Linked DNA regions of Homo sapiens: region 2 is linked to region 1. A link means that fine-mapping ties the variant in region 1 to the expression of a gene that starts in the linked region. Tissue or cell type: pancreas. Region 1 holds a variant in brackets; the other region holds the start of a gene. All regions are shown on one strand. Distances are between the middles of the regions.

What was found. PIP is the estimated chance that this variant, and not a neighbour inherited with it, causes the effect.
Region 2: it holds the start of FBRSL1, and the variant in region 1 is fine-mapped to the expression of FBRSL1 in pancreas (GTEx, PIP above 0.99).

Annotation. Positions count from the first base shown.
Region 1 is chr12:132,516,030-132,518,529 of GRCh38, reverse strand. All of the region lies in intron 2 of FBRSL1 (fibrosin like 1), which reads right to left. Among named protein-coding and RNA genes, the nearest start is that of FBRSL1, 27 kb to the right of the region's middle. The variant G/A (reference allele first, on the strand shown) is at 1,005.
Region 2 is chr12:132,489,082-132,491,707 of GRCh38, reverse strand. It overlaps FBRSL1 (fibrosin like 1), which reads right to left and starts at 1,557. Exons shown (of 19, transcript NM_001367871.1): 1 at 847-1,557. The coding sequence starts at 1,137. RefSeq lists enhancers at 1-469, 2,467-2,596 and silencers at 1,627-2,076, 2,207-2,276.

The sequences.
Region 1 (2,500 bases):
ATGCATGCATGGTGGATGGATGGACAGATGGGTGGATGGACACATGGGTGGATGGATGGACAGACGGGTGGATGGATGGATGAGATACACTACAGACGGGTGGATGATGGACGCATGGGTGGATGGATGGACAGACAGGTGGATGGATGGATGAGATACACTACAGATGAGTGGATGATGAATGCGTGGGTGGATGGACAGATGCATGGGTGGCTGGATGGACAGATGGGTGGATGATGGATGCATGGGTAGATGCATGGGTGGATGGATGGACAGACAGGTGGATGATGGACAGATGGGTGGATGGATGGATGAGATACACTACAGATGATATGAGGGATGCTGGCTGAGTTAAGGCCTAGGAAGTGCGTTGCCAGCAGGCTCTTGGGGACACTAGTGTGTGTGGGCAAGTGCAGGTAAGTGTCTGCAAGGCCCTGCCTGTGCAGTCCTGTGTGCCGGAGGAGGGGTGGGAACAGCAGCTATGCTGTGTCAGAGTGGACTCCAGCAGGTGTGTGCCGCCAGCTCTGGAGTTGGGGCCACTGGACTCCTGGCTCCACCACATTTGCCGCCTGGGCTGCATCACTTGGTCTTGCTCAGTTGGCGCCCTGTCCAACAGAAGAATGACCTAATTCAAGCCACTGCCACCCCCTCCTGAACGGCTGCAGCAGCCTCCCGACAGGCGCCACCACCCCCACAACCGTGCTGCCTCCCCCACGAGTTTGTAAAAACACAGGAGCTCACGTTGTTCCCTGGCTTAAAACCCTCAGTGGTTTCCCTCTGTATGAGACCAGGCCCCTCCTTAGCCCTGTCTGCCCACCCCATGCCCGCTCGGCTCCTCAGGCACACGCCACCAGAGGCCTGGGTGGCTACACCCTCTACCCAGAGCGCTCTTCCCTGACCGCCTGGTCTAACGGTGCCTTCTCTCCTTCCCAGGCACAGCTGTGCTCACACTCAGAACAGTCTCCACCCGCTCTGCTGTTGTCCCAGTTATAGTTTAACTTCTC[G/A]AGGGCAGCACGGTCACTTGTCTTGTTTGTCACTGCAGCCCCAGGCCCAGAACAGGGGCGGAATGACCAAAAGTACAAAATGGATGCCAGTCGGAAGAGCCTTCCCGACCAGAGTGAGGCTGGGAAAGCAGAGGTGGCCATGCTCGCCCCGGAACGGCTAGCCCCAGGCTGTGGGGAGCAGTGCCTGCTAGGCCCAGGTGCTCAGCCTTCCTCTTCCACTCCCACCTAACAGCACCCTGGCCGGCGTGGCCCCCAGCCCTCCTGAGTGGCCCCTTCCCCTGGACCAACTCTTGGTTTGTAGGAGGGCCCTGTCAGGTGGGAGGAAGCTCTAGGACCCTGTGACCCAGCCTGCTGCTCCCTGCAGGTGGCAGGCCCAGGCCCAGTGTCTAAGGCACTGATTAACTGAGTGCCTCTCTCCACAGGCCCTGCACAGGAGGACCCTTGCCTGGCAACCGGGACAAAGATAAGCCTCTAGCGTCTGGGCCTCAAACCAGCCAGGCTGGGCCCAGGAGGCGGGAGAAATTACTCTGAGAATTCATAATAATAAAAGCAGGAATCGATATCATCATGGCAGCTATGTAGACAGTACAAACCTTGCATGTTAGCTCATTTTATCATCTCAACAACCCGAAAACAAATGAACTATTTAGTAACATCCCCGTTTTACAGACAGGAAAACTGAGGCCCAGAAAGCTGCCCTCCAGGTAATGGCCCAGGGTACAGATTCCACAACAAAGCCAAGCCGCTGGGCTTGAATCCTGGTCCAGCTGCTCACTGTGTGAACCTTGGGCAAGTTATTTACAGGCGGCTTTTTTTCTTCAGCATCCTCATCCGGCAAATGGGAATAGTTACAGGGTTGCAGTTAAACAAGCTGATGCATGTTAACTGGTGGAAATGTGCCTGGTACGATCAGAAAAGACTTCAAGTGTTAGGCTAGGCTGGCGACAGGGTGCTGAGCAGGCTGGGGGAGGTGGCACTGAAGACAGAAAACGTGGACATCCAGAAACTCCATCTAACAGATGTAAGACTCTTCAGATTATCTAAGCCGGGCGTGGTGGTTCACGCCTGTTCCCAGCACTTTGGGAGGCCGAGGTGGGTGGATCACCTGAGGTCAGGAGTTCAAGACCAGCCTGGCCAACATGGTGAAACCCTATCTCTACTAAAAATACAAAAATTAGCTGGGCGTGGTGGCACTTGCCTGTGATCCCAGCTACTCAGGAAGCTGAGGCAGGAGAACTGCTTGAACCCGGGAGGCAGAGCTTGCGCAACATTGTGCCACTGCACTCCAGCCTGGGTGATAGAGCAAGACTCCATCTCAAAAAAAAAAAAAAAAGACTATTCGGATTATCTATTTCATCTTGTGTCAGTTTTGTTTTCCAAGTAATTTGCCCACTTCACCTAAGCTGTTGAATTTGTTGGAATAAAATTGTCCCCATTTCACCTTTTTCGTGTCTATAGTGCCTGTAATGATATTTCCCCTTTTGTTCCTAATATTC
Region 2 (2,626 bases), 27 kb after region 1:
GCTCAGCTTCTGAGACTGGGGGATCCCAGGCCATGGGCTCCCAAGCCCCTGGAAAAGTGAGAGGGGTTGGAAATGGGGTGATTCTGGGAGTCAAAGTCCAGCAGATGAGGGTCCCCCAAAGTAAGTGCTGCACGGGGCACACCTCGCTGGGCGGGTCTCGGCCCTGGTGCAGGGCAACTTGCTAGCATTCCTGCCCATGCCAGTCCTGGGGAGACAGCGCCTGCCCCAACTCTCAGACAGCATTTAATTTCCTTCTCTGCTCAGCTGAGTTCATGTAAGAGGAGCAGTATTTGCTCAGCAAATACTGTCCGTCAGCCAGACAAGCAATATTTTTGGCCAATCTATTAACCATGCAGCAGGCAGCAGTCACCAAGAGGGGTCTTGAGATTAACCCTCCTTCTCCCCTTCTCAGCAGAGCCCTCGAAGGGAGGAGGGAACGGGATGGCCCGCGGAGTATCCATTTTATCACCACCTCCCTAAGATCCAGCACTGCTCCCTAGCACGTCCTGAACCAGGCAGAGCGATATGCTGGCCACAGAAACACAACTGATAAAAGGCCGACGGTGCTGTCAGACAGCCCCCAATTTCGAAGCGTAGATTTTTTTGCCTCTGCAACTTAAAACGTCCCCAAACCCACCCGACGCTGCTGGGTCTTCCAGATGCGACGGTCTGGGCGAGCGGTGGGCACCCAGGGTCCCTGGAACGGGTACCAAGTGGCCGGGGCTTCCCTCAGGGCTGCCCACGGCGCGGGCGGTCGCAAGCCCAGGGGTCCCGGGATCGCCCGACGCGTCAACTCCGGGCCCCGTTCTCGCCTCAACGCCTGCGAAGCCGCACCCGTCCACCTACCTCCAGGGCCTCCAGGGTGCTGAAGCTGGCGATGGCGAAGCCGTCGATGACCTCCTCCTCCTGCGAGCTGGACTCGCGGCGGCGGCGGCGCGGGGGACGCGCGGTGCGGGGCGCGGGGGCGGCGCCTCGGGGGGGCGCGCCGCGGAGGCCCGCGTTCTCCTTGCCGGGGCTGGGCTCGGGCTCGTCGCCCGACGACGGACTCTGGGCGCGGGCGTCGCGGGCGGCCTCCCGGCGCCGGCCACGGTCCCGCTGCGCGCGCGAGCGCCGGCTCGGGCGGACCTTGGCCTCCATGGCCGCGCGTGCGCCCCGTCGGGCCGGTGACCTTGACGCCCCGCGCCTGGCTCGCAGCAGGCGGGCTCCCTCGGCTACGCGGCGCCGCCGGGCTGAGTGTGCGCCGCGCGGGCTCGGGCCCTGGGCGGCGGCGGGCGGCGGGCCGGGCCGGGCATGCCGGGCGCGGGGGGCGGCTCAGCCCCGGGCCCGGCGCGGCCTGGGACCCCCGGCGCGGGCGGCTGGGCGCATCGGCGGGGGCGGGCCCGGCGCTCAGCGGCCCTCGGCCGCCCCCCCGGGGGCGCGCCCCATGCGCGCGGCGCGGCGATCGGGCCGAGCGGGCGGGGCCGGGCGGGCGCGGCAGGCGGCAGGCGGGAGGCGGCCGGGCTCCTGGGCACCGGGCTCGTGAGGCGGCGGCGGCGCCCCGAACAGATAACAACTGACGCACTTCCGCCCGGCTGCGCTCGCCAGAGGAAGTGAGGGCCGCCGCGGGCGCCCGCGCGCCCCGCCCCGACCACGCCCCTGCCCCGCCCCGCTCATAAGGCTCCGCCCCCACCCCGCACACGCGGCCCGCCCCGCTCACAAGGCTCCGGCCCCTCCCCGCCCCATTCACGCAGGCCCCGCCCCCCGCAGGCTCCGCCCCCTCCCCGACCCGCTCACGCAGGCCCCGGCCCCGCCCCTCCCGGGCGCTCCCGCTAATTCAGGCCCCGCCCCACCCGCAGGTGCCCGCCCTTCGACCTCGCCCCCTAGCCGCGCCCCTCCCCGGCGCCCCGACCTCCGCTGCAGCCGGCGGTGATCCGCTCGGCTCCTTCCTGGGAGGGCGCTGGGATGCCGCGGCCCCTCCGTGGGCACCTGCGGGCGGCGCTCTCCAAGCGGGAGGCGGGGGCAGCGCCGCCCTCCTCTGCGGGACTGGGGTCCCCGGCCGCGGGCGGCTTCCGAGGAGGACGAGGGGCCTCCGGTCTCGCGGAACCGAAGTCCTGCCCTCGGCGAGCGTGGAAGGGACGGGGAAGGGGCGGGGAGGACCGGGGGAGGGTCCTCGGCCAGGCGGTGCCCCCTCCCCGCGTCCCCGCGGACCCTCCCAGGCCTCCTAGGATGCGGGAGGGGTCTGTCCGCGTCCCCGCCCCGCGCCACGTGCCCCCAAGTCCCACAAGAAGGCGGCTCCCGCCACCGAGACCCCCGGGAACGCGCCCAGCGAGGCGGGGGCTGCTGCCAGACACGGAGCGCAGTGTGGAGGGCGGCGCGGGCAGGAAGCGCACGGAGGCGGCTGCGGTTGCGAGGCAGGCGCGGGGCGAACTTCCTCCTCCACCCCCAGGACAGGCCGAGCTCGGAGGGGCCCGCCTGGTGGGGTTTTCTGAGCCCAGGGGCCCCTTGCGCGTGGGCACTGGAGTCATTGATTCATGCAGCGCGTATTTGCCAGATGCCTCCTGTGTCCAGGCTCTGTTGGTGACCCCGCAGCGGCTGAGATAGACTACCCTCTTAGAAGTGGGAGAGAGACCCTGAACACAGGGCCAAA